2 separate regions of the Homo sapiens genome follow, and region 2 is linked to region 1. The links come from fine-mapping of genetic effects on gene expression. Tissue or cell type: cerebellum. Region 1 holds a variant in brackets; the other region holds the start of a gene. All regions are shown on one strand. Distances are from middle to middle.

Region 1 (8,104 bases):
AACTTCCCATGAATCTCAAAGATTAGGAACTACAGATGGATAGTAATTAATATATAACTTCTTTTTTGCAGAGTGATTTATATTCTTTAATTCTTTAATTCTTACAACAGCCTCACAAGGGAGGTGCCATAATCACCCCCATATCATCAGTTGGGAGACTGAGGCTCAGAGCTATCAACCCTTTGGGCAGGGTCACAAGGCTTACCACTAAGGGGAGGGAATAGAGGTAGCCTGCTCCAGAGCCTGCATGTTCACCCTCCATATGGTTTTGCTCTGTGGGGAAGTTGTGAATTCCAGTGAACCGTCTAGAGCATAACTCTCAGCCCTGGTGTGTATCAGAGCCCTCTGTGAAACTCGATGTGGCTGTCCTAAGAGCAATCGATGTTTTTTCCAGCAGCTGCTAGTGTCTGGTTCCATGTTGAGTGCCAGTACTCTGCTCATAGTAGTGGGAAATGGGGGCGGAGGTGGGGTTGTGCTTCCACTGTAACCATTATCACCATATTTTTGGTGGAGAAACTGGTGTTCAGAGAGGTTATATAACTTACCCACAGTCACACAGCTTTTAGGTGGCAGAGCCGGGGCTCCAGCCAGCAGCCTGACTCCAAATCTGCCGGTCTGACTGCATGTCTCCAGGCCTTCTGCTGTGCTGGACTCAGGCTCCAGGAGGACTGTGGGCCTAGGGTGATGGGCACTGTCTCAGACAAGCCAGGCGCAGCCTGTTTCGTGGGCATGTTGACCAAAGCATAGAAACAAAGCAGAAATGTGAGGTCAGGGCCAGACTGTGAGGCTGAGGCCCAGGGTCTTGGGCTAAAACTTCTCTAATTGGTGCCCTCCTTCTTGGGGTCCAGATTGGCATCCGTGTGGGAGGCAGGAGGAGCCCACAGGAGGGAGGCCTCTGCTCTGTGGCAAAGAGGTAGAACCTGGACCCAGGGGTCCTAATGGTCAGGGTGTGACCCTGCTGGTGGGGCCGCTGAGCACCCTGGCCATGAGCTCCTTAGAGTTTCAGCTTGCTTTGTTTGGGGGTGGGATGGGGGAGTGCGGGGTGCTTATTGACTCTTTCAAATTTCTCTTTTTCATTTTTTCCTTCTTTGATGGAAGAAGCATAGGACAGGAAATGTGGGCGCTCACTTCACCCCACACCCCCAGGTCCTCCTGCCCATCTGGTGATTTAGGCGCAGCTCACTTTTTTAACTGAGCAGGAGCAGTTTGGCATTTTGCAGTCATTTCCATGTTATGTCTGTCCAGGGGCACCTGTGGTTCTGAAGCTCCCATGACAAATTCCACTGTTTCCCAGGTTTGATATTTTAGTCATTTCAGATTTAAGCAGCAGAAGCAAGGGGCACATTCTGTGGTTAGACTGGAATGGTGATGTTTGCAGGGAGACCAAAAAGGGGGAAACCGCAGTACACCCAGGACCCTGATGCACAAGCACAGAGAAGCTCCAGCCTGTGGGATTTCTGTTTCCACCTGTGACTCTTTCCTAGCTGGTTTTTTTTTTTTTTTTTTTTGAGATGGAATCTCACTCCCTCTGTCACCGTGGCTGGAGTACAGTGGCGTATTCTTCACCCACTGCAACCTCCGTCTCCCAGGTTCTAGCGATTCTCTTTCCTCAGCCTCAGTGATCTGCCCTCCTTGGCCTCTCAAAGTGCTGGGATTACAGGCGTGAGCCACTGCGCCCAGCCCCTCGCTGTTTTTTAAGCTGCCTCTGGTGGGGCTGGCTAGAGATTTGACCTCTTGTCTCCAGAGCCTTAGGGGCCCACTGTCAAAGGTAGGTTTACAAACAAACCCAAGGGAAGAATTTAACCCGAAAATATGTCCCATTCATTTGGAAGCCATGAACAAAAACAACAGGCAGGGCACGGTGGCTCACGCCTGTAATCCCAGCACTTTGAGAGGCTGAGGCAGGAGGATCTCTTGAGTCCAGGAGTTCGAGGCTGCAGTGCGCTATGATGATGCCACAGCATTCCAGCCTGGGTGACAGAATGAGACCCTGTCTCTAAAGAAACCGACAAAGCAACAATAGCAAACATGCACTCACTTTTTTAAAAAGAAACTTTTTGAAAAATGCCAAGCAAGTCTAAATTTTAAGTTCAAAGTATCAGTTTCACAGATTTCTCTATTGGCCCAGATTTTCAAATGGCAGAAACCGCAGTCAAGCAGCAAACCAAAATAACACCTTGCTTTCTGGTGGAAACTTTGTTCCAACTAGAGCATTTCACTTGTATGTACAGCCCCCATTTATCCTCAGAGGTCCTTACTGAGATAGGGCAGAAACAATTCTGCTTTCCAGTGAGGAAGACTGGGATGTAAAGAAGTTAAGTGGCTAGTCTAAGACACAACAGTATTAGCAGAATTAGGAACAGGAAATAGGTCTGTTGACTTGAGGGCCACTATGTTATTGCTAGATGAATTTGGGTGGTCAGGGTAAAGGAAAATCTTACTCTCCAAAACATTTGAAAAAGCTGCCCATGTTTCTTTATTTGTAAGAGGAAATAAACTCCTCACAATTTGGGGGAAACTCGGCATGCTGGAAGCCCAGTAACCCCTCCCTCCTGGCTGTGGGGGTACTGGTGGGTGTCCCTTGCTCACATGGCAGCCTGGTTGCATTCTAGTCTCTTGCCCGCTCCTGGAGAAATCTGTTCTCTTTTTGGTTTTTGAGTGTTATGAGAGTCAGAGAGGGTTGGAGAGTGTATGTTAGTAATGCATTTGTCTGTAGGCAACTGAAAGCCTCATTTAGAGTGCCTTAAACAAAAGAATTTGTTGTCTTCACATAGCAAGAAGGTTTGCAGTGGTTGCCTACTGACATATGGTTTTGGTGGTTTAACAGTACCAGAGCTGGCTTCTCAGATTTTTAAATTTTTTTATTTTTCCTCATTGTTGCAAGATGGCTGCTACAGCACCAACAGTCACATTCACATTCACTTTCGAGGCAAGAAGAGAAGTGGAAGAAGAGTAGCACTATGCAAATACCCCCTTTTTTTTAAATCAAGGAAATAAAAACCTTCCCAGAATCCCCTAGCAGGTTTCCATTTTTGTTCATAAGTCAGAACTATGTCACATGGCCATACCTACTATAAAGCAGGCAAGGAAAGTATTTAGGTTTTTTATTTGTTTGTTTGTTTTCAGACAGGATCTTGCTCTGTTGCCCAGGCTGGAGTGCAGTGGTGTGATGTATAAGGTCACAGCACACTGGCTTTGACAGCGATCCTCCCACCTTAGCCTCCCAAGCTGGGATCACAGGCACGCACCACTATGCCTGGCTAATTTTTGTATTTACTGTAGAGACAGGGTTTCGCCACGTTGCCCAGGCTGGTCTTGAACTTCTGAGCTCAAGCAATCCACCTGCCCCAGCCTCCCAAAGTGCTGGGATTATAGGTGTGAGCCACTCCGCCTGGCCCCAGTATTTAGTTTTTTTCATCTCTAGGGAAGAGGAGGGTTGGGAATAGATGTTGGGTTAATATCCAATGTTGTCTGCCCCAGGAAACGTGTTTTCCTACAGGAAACAGGCATGAGAAACAAAATTTATCATCTGGTTAAAACTCAGTCATTTGCTCAATACACACAATGCACCCATTACCTGGGTGAAATATTGGAGGCAGAGGGAGGAGTCCGAAGTAGGCCTGGTGGCGGGATGGGGAGAGGAAATATCCTTAACAGCAATGCCCAGGTGTGAGGTGTTCCAACATTTTCCTCCCAAGTCCCAACTTTAGTTTTGGCTCTTAACAGCATTAGAAGGCACTGAGGAGAGTTGGCAAAGCCGGTATCTAAAGGAGTGGGCGGAGGCCTGCTGAGCAGAGGTGGAGTAGCCAGCCTCCCTCTTGGCCTGGCTGTCCCATCCCCACTGTCACCGCTGAGGTCCCTCCTGGGCCTCTTCTCCCTTGCTCTGGGAGGAGCCTCTGTTGCTGTCTGGCTCGCTGTGCCACATTGTCATCCTTGCCCGATTCCCAGCTTCCCCAGACCATCTGACCTGTCCCTTCCTATCCCAGGTCCCCCGAATCCACTGGGACCTGTCCACGGAGCGGGTCCTCCTGATGGAGTTTGTGGATGGCGGGCAGGTCAATGACAGAGACTACATGGAGAGGAACAAGATCGACGTCAATGAGGTGAGGTCAAGAGCTCAGGGCTGCTGTGC[C/T]GGGGAACGTGGGCTTGGTCAAGGCTGCCCAGGAAGTGCCTGTGTGTCCAGGTGAGGCCTCAGAGTCTGGCCCCCTTGTCTTTAATAGGGCCCATTGTCTGGAGAATTATAAACTTTGAGCAAGAAAGATTCTTTCAGGTCATTTAGGCCAGCCCTGTGCACACAGCGGCCTGCAGGGACATGCTGAACCCCTTCTGCCATTACCTGCTTTTCCTTTGTACCATCTGAGCCCCACAAAGCTAAGCGGCCACAGAGAACAATGATGCAAAATCAGTGGGACTTAATCCTTTTGGCTCTGTGGGGCCTGTCTGTTGTCTCTTCCCTCTTCCTGCCCTTCTCTCTCCTTCCCACTTCCCAGATCTCAAGGGATCAGGCAAAAAGGGGACAGCAGCAACCAACTGCATCAGCCTCCTAGAGCAGGAAAAAAGAGGTGGGCTTTGTGTGTCCCCCCTCCCATCCCCCTTGTCCCAGGGAATACTGGCCAGTGGGTAGGACCTGTCCCTCACTTTCTGCTTCTTGGTTGCACAGGGTCCCACAGGAATGGGTGGAGTTGTACTTTTTCAACAACATTCATAATTTCATTTTTATGTTTTTAGAGATGGGGTCTTGCTCTGTTGCCTAGACTGGCGTGCAGTGGCACAATCATAGTTCACTGTAATCTGGAACTCCTGGGCTCAAGCAGTCCTCCCACTTTGGCCTCTCAAAGTGCTGGCATTACAGGTGTGAGCCACGTGGCCAGGCTCAACATTGATCATTTTAATAGTGTCTGCTATATGCTAGGTATGGGGGCTCGCAGGGGGACCAGACCTAGTCCCCAGAGCTTAGCATCAGAGTCAGACACACATCTAAATCCTTGCTGTATCTCAGGCAGCGAGAGGGTGTGAGGAGAACCCCAGGGAGAGTGAGGAAGAGGCACTGAGGCCTGCCACAGGTTGGTGTCCCCAGCAGGATGAGTAGGAGTTTTCCAGGGAGTGGCTTTGCAAGAAGGGGAAGGGAATGGGTGAAGTTTGGCAGGGCTGGGGCAGGATTCCTTGGGGTGTGTGGGGAGATAAAGTAATGGTCTTGGGTGTGACCTTGAGGCACTGTGGAGTCACTTCAGGGTTTTGGGGAGTGCAGCAACATGTTCTGCCCTCTGGGATGGAAGGAAGGAAGTGGGCCACGCCCAGTGGAGGTAAATGCTTTTTTTTTTTTTTTTTTTTTCCCTGAGACGGAGTTTTGCTCTTGTTGCCTAGGCTGGAGTGCAATGGCGCAATCTTGGCTCACTGCAACCTCCGCCTCCTGGGTTCAAGTGATTCTCCTGCCTCAGCCTCCCAAGTAGCTGGGATTACAGGCATGCGCTACCATGCCTGGCTAATTTTGTATTTTTAGTAGAGACAGGGTTTCTCCATATTGGTCAGGCTGGTCTTGAACTCCTGACCTCGGGTGATCCGCCTGCCTCGATCTCCCAAAGTGCTGGGATTACAGGCGTGAGCCACCGCGCCTGGCTGTGAATGCTCTTTTCTATTCCACTCCCCATGTCCACAGGCAGTGCATGAAGATGAGCGTGAGCATGTGGTCCCAATGGGGAGTTGGCCCACAGGAGAAAGCCATACCTTGGCTCAGCAGATGAGCCCAGGGGGGTGGCAGGGGAGTGTGGTGGTTGCACAGGCCTCCTGGTGGCCATGTGACTGCTGTAAATGGGGTCAGTATCTGCCTCTAAGAGGGGCTGTGAAGACTATGTGAGTTAGGGTGCAAACAGTGCTAAGCACAGTGCCTGGTGTGTGGCTAGCATTCCAGAAGAGTAGCTGGGTGGTGGTTGTTGATTTCCTTATATTATCTTTGGGCTCTGTTCTTTCTTTCTCCTTTTACCATTAGCATTTATTGCATGCCTAACTTCCCTGTGCCAGGCCCTTTTCTCCATAATAAACTTATGAGGGTGGTCTCATTGTCTCCATTTTGCAGACAAAGAATCAGAGTCTCAGAGAGAGAAGGTCACACAGCTTAGCAGAGGTGGGATTGAGACCTGAGTCTCCCTGATTTCACTCTTCCTGTTAGGCCACAAAGGAGGGGCCGCATCAAAGTGCACAGAGCTGCTGCCAGGAGCATGGTGGGAACGTTTCTCTGTGGCTGGCTCAGGCCTTCTAGGAAAGCTGTTGTCCCCTGACTTAGGGAACAGTGCTTCAATAACCCATTCAAGGGCCTTGGGGTGTGTGGGATATGGGCAGGCTACACTGAAACAGATACCACTCTGTTTTACCCAGGGCAGCTTTGCCAATGCGTGAGCTGCCTATTGGACTTTTCTGGAAGAGTTCTGCTGCTTGGAGGGAAAGGGATGAGAAAAAGAGTTCATCCTTCTATTTTACAGATGGGGTGAAAAGTTCTGAGAGGGAGCAAATGTCTTTCCTGAGGTCACTTGGCCAGTAACACAAGTCAGGGCTTCTGACTCTGCTGCCTTCACTGGTGGCTTCTAGGGTGGTACATGGGAGGTGTTCAAGCAGAATACAGTCTTTGGTTCCAGTGGCGAAGGGATTCGATGGGATGGGAGGCCACCTCTGGCCTTTCCTGAACGGCCTTAAAGGGAAACAGGGTCTGTCGCCTGCTGATCAGGAAATATCCCAGAGGCCTCATCCCCGCCAGGTTCCTGGCATTTACTTACTACCAGCTGTGGAGGCATTTTCATTCCAGCAACACCCTCAAGTCCATTAATCTCTTTGGATCCAGTGAGCCCAGAGCCGTAATGGTGTTTAATCAGAGGCAACGTTGATTTTCCAAACAAATGCAAACACAGAAAGGTGCGCTCTGGGTAGTTGTTTGCTTATGGCTGAGTGCTGTGCCTGGCCGGAGGGGGCAGCTAGGCTGGAGCTGGGCAGTAGGAGCTGGGCAGGGCGTACCCTCTGAGGACTGGTCTCATCTGCTTCTGCCTCCCCGCTCTTTTGATACCTTGTAGATAAAGCCAGTGGTCTGTGCAGAGCAGATCCTTGGTAGACATTCTTAAATTAGTGAATGGGTAAACAAACCAGCCTCACACCCTAGATTGGCCTCTACCAGGCAGGCCTAGGGGAGAGTGTTGGTTGTTTTCTTGTGGACATGCAGAATGGGGCAAGCTGATATCAGAGTTATTTGGGGAAAAACAATAACTAATAATAATTATAAGCAACTAATATGTGCCAGGCATATGACACACATAATCTCTACTCATTACAGCTCTCCTATACAGTATATATTATTAACCCTATTTACAGATGAGAAAGCAAATGCTCAGAGAGGTTAAACAACTTGCCCCGTATCACACAGCTAGCAGGGGTAGAACCAGGGTTTGAACTCAGGTCTGCATGACTCCAAAGTCCTTGCCCCTCTACCTTCTCCATTTCCCTGCCAGGGATCTATAGGTTGGTGCAAAGGTAAATGTGTGTTTTGTTTTTTATTTTGGGCCATTGCAAAAACCACAATTCTTTTTGCACCAACCCAATACCTTGGGCTGCTGGAACCTGGAGCCACTTGGTAACTAACTACTCAGAGGAGCTGGAGCACCATCTGAGAAGCATTGCTCTGCACCAAGGCAGTGTCTGAATGTAACACCTCTCTCTCTGGCTTACATCAAGGATCACTTCATAGAAACATTTTTCTGTTTTATCGTACCCATCTCTAAGTAAGTGATTTTGTGAGGACTGTGTGAGTTAATGCACAAACAATGCTTTGCACAGTGCCTGGCGTGTGCTAAGTAAGTTCCCCAAAATGATAGTGAGATGAATGTTGTTGTTGTTGTCATTGGGCTATTTTTTTCTCTTCTACCTCCCCAGCTTTCTTTTTTTTTTTTTTTAAACCATTAATGTTTACTGACTGCCTGGCTCTGTGTACCAGGAGCTTTCTGCATTATCAACTTATGAGGGAGGTCTTATTGTCTCAGATTTGCAGATGAAGAATCAGAGACTCAGAGAGGGAAGATAACTTACCTGAGGTCACAAATTTTAATTGTATACCTCAGTAAGTTTC
Region 2 (8,104 bases), 110 kb before region 1:
ACCTGCTGTGAGTCACCCAGTTCAAATAAGATTCTTTGACTCTAAATCGGGGTTTTTAACCTCAGCTGTGCATTGAAATCCTACAGGGAGCTCTACAAAATACCTATGACTCAGTCCCATTCCCAGTAGTTGAAGGGGTGCTAGTGCCAGCTATGGCCCAGGAAGACTTTTAAAGCTCTCCAGGTGATTTTTTTTTTTAGACTGGGTTTTTCTCTGTCACCCAGGCTGGAATGCGGTGGTGGTGCAATCATGCCTCACTGTACCCTTGACCTTCTGGGCTCAAGTTATCTTCCCACGTGAGCCTCCTGAGTAGTTGGGATTTTAGGCATGAGCCACTGTGCCTGGCCCTTATTATTATTTTATTTTTAATTTATTATTATTTTTTGAGATGGAGTCTTGCTCTGTCACCCAGGCTGGAGTGCAGTGACATGATCTCGGCTCACTGCAACCTCTGCCTCCTAGGTTCAAGCGAGTATCCTGCCTTAGCCTCTAGAGCAGCTGGGACTACAGGCGTGTGACACCACGCCCAGCTAAGTTTTGTATTTTTAGTAGAGACGGGGTTTCACCATGTTGGCCAGGCTGGGCTGGAATTCCTGACCTCAAGTGATCTGCCTGCCTTGGCCTCCCTAAGTGCTGGGATTACAGGTGTGAGCCACTGCACCTGGCCTAATGCTCCCTTTTTTCTGTTCCTAAGCCACTTTGTTCATACCTCAATCTTAACACTTCTCACATTATTTGGAAGTTATCAATCTTCTTATCTTAATGCCTATACATTGCAAACTTTAGATGGTGGGGGCTGTGTTATTTAACTCTATACTACTGCTACCTCTGTGCTGCAATTATCTTTTTTTTTCTTTTTTAGTGACCGGGTTTAGCTCTCTCTCTGTTGCCCAGCTGGAGTGCAGTGGCAAGACTCATCAAAGCTCACTGCAGCCTTGAACTCCTGGGCTCAAGATCCTCCCTCCCTGGCCTCCAGAGTAGCTGGGACTACAGGCATGCGCCACCATGCCCAGCTAATTTTTAATTTTTCTGTAATCTCATAGGGTCTGGCTATGTTGCTCAGGCTGGTCTCTAACTCCCAGCTTCAAGCGATTCTCCTGCCTTGGCCTCCCAAACTGTCGTGGTTACAGGGATAAGCCACTGTGCTCAGTCTATGCTGTCTTTCAATAAAGACAAGTGCTTAAATTTAATGTAGTTTAAATTTATCAAAGTTTTATTTACAGTTTGTGATTATGGCACTTAATAAACCCTACCCTGAGATCATAAGGATGTTTTCTTTTCTTGTAAAAGTTATAATTTTGGGGAACGATAGTAAGAAGAAAAAAAAAGTTGTAATTTTAAAATGCTTTAATTTCCCCTGTAAGTCTTTAACCTACCTTGAATTAGTTTTTGCATAGGGGATCCAACAGGTAACTGGTTGTTCCAGCCCATGTACTGAATACTCTATCTTCCCTCACTGAACTATAATTCCAGCCATACCTCATTTCATAGATGCCTGCATGTTTGGGCTCTGTAGGTGGTTCCATTTCCCCCTCTGCCTTTCCCTATTCCAATATCACATGGTCTTAATTTGTATAGCTTTATAATACATGTTGACATGGAAGGGTGCGTCCTTGAAACACATTTTTCTTCTTCAAGAATGTTTTGGCTATGCTTTGCCTTAAAGTGGTGGTTTTTTTTTGTTTTTTGTATTTTTTTTTTTTTTTGAGACAAAGTCTCGCTCTGTCACCCAGGCTGGAATTCAGTGGTATGATCTTGGCTCACTGCAACATTTGTCTCCCGGGTTCAAGGATTCTCTTGCCACAGCCTTCTGAGTAGCTGGGATTACAGGTGTGCACCACCATGCCTGGCTAATTTTTGTATTTTAGTAGAGATGGGGTTTTACCATGTTGGCCAGGCTGGTGATGAACTCCTGACCTCAACTGATCCACCTGCCTTAGCCTCCCAACGTGCTGGGATTACAGGCACGAGCCACTGCGCTGCCCTTTGTTTTTTCATACACACTTTTGATTAGTTTGTGAAGGTCCAGAAAAAATTATGTTGGAAATTTGATTGGAACTGCATTGGACTGATAGATTAATTCCCCCATGAAAAAAATAGCTCAAGAGATGTTTATAGAATAAACAAACGTCTGAGGCCTGGCGTGGTGGCTCACACCTGTAATCCCAGCACTTTGGGAGGCCAAGGCCAGAGGATGGCTTAGCACAGAAATTCGAGACCAGCCTGGGCAATATAGTGAGACCACACCCCCCAGCTTTTCTTGAGAAAAAATTTAAAAAATTTAGCCAGGCGTGGCAGTATGTGCTTGTAGTCCCAGCTACTCCACAGACTGAGGCAGGAGGGTACCTTGAGGACAGGAAGTTGAGGCTACAGTGATGGAGCCTCTACACTCCAGCTTGGGCAACACAGCCAGACCCTGTCTCAAAAAAAAAAAGAGAAATGTTTTTGATACATGTCTTCAAAGTGCATCTTATAAGTCAACATTTGATAATGGAGATCAGTGAATGAATGAATAAGGGCCAAAGATAACTAAGATTAGCTAGCATATTATATTTATTTATTTATTTATTTTGAGACGAGTCTTGCTCTGTTGCCCAGGCTGGAGTGCAGTGGCCCAATCTCAGCTCACTGCAACCTCCACCTCCTGGGTTCAAGCAATTCTCCCACCTCAGCCTCCCGAGTAGTTGGGATAACAGGTGCCCGCCACTATGCTGGGCTAATTTTTCTTTTTCTTTTTTTTCTTTTTGGAGACAGAGTCTCACTCTGTTGCCTAGGCTGGAGTGCAGTGGCGTGATCTCAGCTCACTGCAACCTCCGCCTCCCGGGTTCAAGCGATTCTCCTGCCTCAGCTTCCTGAGTAGCTGAAATTCCAGACGTGCACCACCACACCAGGCTAATTTTTGTATTTTTAGCAGAGACAGATTTCACTATGTTGGCCAGGCTGGTCTCAAATTCCCGGCCTCAAGTGGTCCGCCCACCTTGGCCTCCCAAGGTGCTGGGATTACAGGAATGAGCCACCGCACCCGGCTTAATTTTTCTATTTTTAGTAGAAATGGGGTTTCACTATGTCGGCCTGGCTGGTCTCCAACCCCTAGCCTCAGGTGATCTGCCCGCCTCAGCCTCCCAAAGTGCTGGGATTACAGGTGTGAGCTACTGCGTCCTGCCCAGCCAGCATTATTATTATTATTTTTGAGACGGAGTTTCGCTGTTGTTGCCTAGGCTGGAGTGCAATGGCGTGACCTCGGCTCACCGCAACTTCTGCCTCCCGGGTTTCTAGTGCCTCAGCCTCCTGAGTAGCTGGGATTACAGGCATGCACCACTAGGCCTGGCTAATTTTTGCTATTATTAGTAGGGACGGGGTTTCTCCATGTTGGTCAGGTTGGTCTCAAACTCCCGACCTCAGGTGATCTGCTAGCCTTGGCCTGCTGGGATTACAGGCGTGAGCCACCGCCCCGCCAGCATACATCAATTGTCAGTAAATTTCTTCTTCGCCTACTAGTTCCAATATCTTATTTAAAATCTATGGCCCGGTGAGGTGGCTCAGGCTTGTAATCCCAGCACTTTGGGAAGTCAAGGCGGGTGGATTGCCTGAGTTCAGGAGTTCAAGACCAGCCTGGGCAAAATGGCGAAACCCCGTCACTCCTAAAAATACAAAAAATTAGCAGGGCGTGGTAGCACACTCCTGTAATCCCAGCTACTCAGGAGGCTGAGGCAGGAGAATCACTTGAACCCGGGAGGCGGAGGTTGCAGTGAGGCGAGATGGGCCACTGCACTCCAGCTTGGGCGACAGAGTGAGACTCTGTCTCAAAATGAATGAATGAATGAATGAATGAATGAATAAAATCTACGAGGTCGGGCGCAGTGGCTCACTCTTGTAATCCCAGCACTTTGGGCGGGCGGATCATTTGAGGTCAGGAGTTTGAGACCGGCTTGGCCAACATGGTGAAACCCCATCTCTAAAAAAAATACAAAAATTAGCTGTACTGCTTGGGCGACAGAGCGAGACTCAGTCTCAAAAAAAAAAAATCTACAAATCCACTTCATCTTTCATTAAACACGAACCTGGGACGTAGTTAGAATGTCTTGAAGAAAATATTTCAGTAATATTCCAAGTCCGTCGCCCTGGCAAAGCAACAAGGCCACCTGACGGAGTAAGCCCGAGACCCCTGTGCCTCCACAGTACTGCCCGCGGGATCGCGGCGTGGGGAACCAGGAACTACAAGTCCCGGCAGGCCGCGCGCGCCTCGGCTTCACTAAGCGCAGTCAGGTGGCTGTCCCCGCACGGTTCCCAGCTAATTCCCCGCTACCGGGTTGCGGCCGGAAGCCGGGCGCCGCGGCTCTGCTTCCCTCGGGGTGAGTAGGGGCAGCTCGCCGGAGGCCGGCGCAGAGCTCGGGCCGACCAGCCTGGCAGGGCCGCACCGCGCCTGGAGCGCGAGGGAACCGGCATGGACACGCCGGGAGTCGGCCTCTGCTCCGGTTGTGCAGCCGCCCTGGGCGCCGGGAGGGACAGCCCCATGACCTTGTCACCTGGGCCCGGCGCGCGGCCACGTGGCTCGGGTGACTCGCATTGCCCCGCCCCCCTGCAGTGACTTCTCCAGTTTGGCACACCAGTGGGCTTTCATGTGACCTGTCCACTTCAGTGGCACAGTCTTGCAGGCACCCGAGTGGGCAGAGCTGGAGGAGGGCCGGAGGTGGCTCACCCAGACGCCTTCACCCCCTGGTGGCCCTGTGAGTTCCGAGGCAGAAGCAGCTGGAGCTGGAGCGTGGTCTGGGCAAGAGCAGGGGGCGATGCCCATATCCTGGCCCTCCACCCGGTCTTGCGAACGTGCCCCAGACCGCTGCTTATCTCCAGCATCTTGCAGGGCCCTGGGCTTCCAGATCACACAGTAGATATGTGCTAACAGCAGCCAGTGTGTGTGGAGAGCAACCTTTAGATAAGACACCTAGAACAGCCCTCTCCCAGGGTTAAGTGGCATTTACTTTCTACTAACAAGAAAGTCATTCAACAAGTATTTATTGTTTACCTCCATGATACTTGGCACTTAGTAGGTGCTCAAGAAATATTTGCAGAGTTGAAGTGAATTAGACTTTATCTGTGGCTTCATATGTTTTATTTAATAATTTTCTTGGGGCTGGATGTGGTGGCTGATGCCTGTAATCCCAGCACTTTGGGAGGCCAAGATGGGAGGATTGCTTGAGGGCAGGAGTTCAACACCAGGCTGGGCAACATAGTGAGACTCCCGTCTGTATTAAAAGAAAAAAAGGAAAATAAATAAAATAATTTTCTTACTACAGTGGTTCTCAAACTTTAGCATGCACCAGAGTCACCTGGAGAGCTAGTAACAACACACAGTACTGGACCCCATCCCCAAAGTTTCTGATTCTGTAAGTCTGGTATGAGGACCAAGAATTGGCGTTTCTAACATGCACCCAAGTGATGCAGTTGCTGTTGGTCTGGGGACCATACGTTGAGTACCACTGCTTTATAGGAAAAAAAATCCTGTGAACTTAAAGCACTATCTCTTCACACCTGGTTACGGGTCTTTCTGTCTTTATTTGCCAGTTTTACTTTTTTGGTGATTGTAAATATGTGCATATTACTTTGTACACTGTTAACTCCCTCCATATTAATTTATATACAGATTTTAATGTAGTCTATACTTGTCATTTTTCCTGGTTACATCATATTCTACCTTATTGGGTCATTCTTTGCTTGGCCATTTCTCAACTGGCCTCAGGGATGTGCGATTTGATCTGTACTAGAAGAGTGTGCATATTCTTACTTTCTGCTATGCAGTCATTTTCTTGTCAGACAAAGGACCTGTAAGAATATTAGTTGGGGCCGGGTGCGGTGGCTCACACCTGTAATCCCAGCACTTTGGGAGGCTGAGGTGGGCGAATCACTTGAGGTCAGGCGTTCAATGCCAGCCTGGCCAACATGGTGAAACCCCATCTCTACCAAAAATACAAAAAAATTACCTGGGCGTAGTGGTGTGTGCCTGTAGTCCCAGCTACTTGGGAGGCTGAGGAGGAGAACAGCTTGAACCCGGGAGACGGAGGCTGCAGTGAGCCGAGATCGTGTCACTGCACTCCAGCCTGGGCGACTGAGCAAGACTCCGTCTAAAAAAAAAAAATTTAGTTGGGTCAGCCATCCATTTCTTCACCAGGGTAACTCACTAAATATGCCTCCTGGGTTAAGGTTTCCATGTTGCAGGGACTCCAGTGGCCTATTTCAGGGCCCAGCAAGCTGCTTGTTCTTGTGCACTTTTTGCTCTCTTGGTGGGAGCAGTCATACATGGATTCAAGTTCTGCCTCCATCACTTACCAGCTCCTTGGCCAAGTTTTCTACCTTTTCTAAAACACCACTTCCTTATCCATAGATTGAAGCTCTAATAGCATGCACCTCGGAATCTGGTTGTGTGAGTTAATGAGCTAATAAGTGCTTGGTACTGTAGCTCTCCCGTTGGAAGCTCACTCTCTTCTCTTACCTGCTGCTTGCTCTTTGCATCTGGCTTTGCCCTATTCTCCCTCAGTCTGCCTTTCCTAGGATGGACTGAATGGAGGATTTCTATTCCTTGCCTGGGTGAGAATTATTTTTGTTGTCTATTCTGGGACCTTGGCATCAGTCAGGGATTCCTTTTTTTATTTTTTGAGACAGAGTGTTGCTCTGTCGCCCAGGCTGGAGTGCAGTGGCACGATCTTGGCTCACTGCAGCCTCTGCCTCTCGGGTTCCAGCAATTCTCTTGCTTCAGCCTCCCGGGATTCCTTTATTTAATCAACATTGATTTAAGGACCTTGAGTGCTTAGGCATCAAACACTAGGAAAGGGAGTTTGATTAAAATTTGGTTCCTAGCCGGGCGCGGTGGCTCACGCCTGTAATCCCAGCACTTTGGGAAGCCAAGGCGGGCGGATCACGAGGTCAGGAGATCGAGACCATCCTGGCTAACATGGTGAAACACCGTCTCTACTAAAAAAAATACAAAAAAATTAGCTGGGCGTGGTGCCGGGTGCCTGTAGTCCCAGCTACTCAGGAGGCTGAGGCAGGAGAATGGCTGGAACCCGGGAGGCGGAGCTTGCAGTGAGCCGAGATTGCGCCACTGCACTCCAGCCTGGGCGACAGAATGAGACTTCATCTCAAAATAAATAAATAAATACAATTTGGTTCCTGGACTACATTACTATCTTAGGGAGGGCAGACTGTAAACCTGCTCAGGCCAACTTCACACAGTCCCTTGCTATTGACTTGGTGTCTTTGGCATCTTTCCAGACTTGAGGCATGATGGTATCATTCACTTTGTGTGCTTTCTATCCATATCAGGGACCAGGTTCTTCTGAAGACCCTATCACTCTCTCCAAGGGTATTTTTGGGTCTTTTTTCAGTTTTGGGGGCAGACTAGAAGAAATAATGCTCATTGGTATAATAGTCTCTCTAGGAAATGGGAGGAGGCCATGGTCACTTTTCATGGAACTAGAGACCTAAGTGCCTTTTCTCTGTGGTAATTCTCATTTGTGCACCAAACAGGGAAAGGTGATTCCAGGCCTTTAGTCCTGAAATGTAGCATAGGGAGAGGGCTGCCAATGGATGGAAACTGAAAAGGCCTAGCTAGTCACTGACTCCGATGAACAGTAAGTGCTTGGTTTCCCATTTAGTTCTGTCAAGGGGACGGACATTTCGTGTGACCATCAGCTTCCCATTTGTACGTCCCAGACTCTCCTGTTGCTTCATTTTCATAACCTACTGGGGTGTTTCCTGTGGTCCAGCGAGATGGATTCCATTCTTGTCATTGATTTGACAATAAAACAGCCATGTCAGCTTTGCAGCTCTCCTAAACATTTGATAGACTGAAATGGCTTGTTTCTAGTGGGAGGCATTGGTTGATCTTGTGACATCCTGTTGATTTTGGGGGCTCCAAACAGTGCCTCCCACATGCCTGGCACTGGGTCAGAAATCATAGTCTCTGCCCACAGCAACAGTTGCATTTACTTGAGAACAGCAGTAAGGACTTTAGTGAACAGGAGTCCAGGTGTTCCTATCAAAGACGTTACCTGTCATAAAGAGAAGGGCTGAATACTTGGAATGAGTGGGAAGGCCCTGCTCAAGCTCT

Which allele goes with the higher level. Alleles are on the strand shown, and positions count from the first base shown. SD is a standard deviation of normalised expression in the study named.
For the expression in cerebellum of the gene that starts at base 4,291 in region 2, T is the low allele of the variant in region 1 and C is the other (large effect, 0.93 SD a copy in GTEx).

Evidence for each region. PIP is the estimated chance that this variant, and not a neighbour inherited with it, causes the effect.
Region 2: it holds the start of ADCK1, and the variant in region 1 is fine-mapped to the expression of ADCK1 in cerebellum (GTEx, PIP above 0.99). The same link has a PIP of 0.9 or more in amygdala, atrial appendage, caudate, cerebral cortex, gastroesophageal junction and hippocampus.

Annotation. Positions count from the first base shown.
Region 1 is chr14:77,903,817-77,911,920 of GRCh38, forward strand. It overlaps ADCK1 (aarF domain containing kinase 1), which reads left to right. Exons shown (of 11, transcript NM_020421.4): 7 at 3,987-4,103. Among named protein-coding and RNA genes, the nearest start is that of ADCK1, 110 kb to the left of the region's middle. The variant C/T (reference allele first, on the strand shown) is at 4,133.
Region 2 is chr14:77,795,819-77,803,922 of GRCh38, forward strand. It overlaps ADCK1 (aarF domain containing kinase 1), which reads left to right and starts at 4,291. Exons shown (of 11, transcript NM_020421.4): 1 at 4,291-4,352. RefSeq lists silencers at 402-451, 462-511, 4,217-4,576 and enhancers at 3,616-4,154, 4,155-4,693, 4,767-4,816, 4,827-4,906, 6,288-7,127.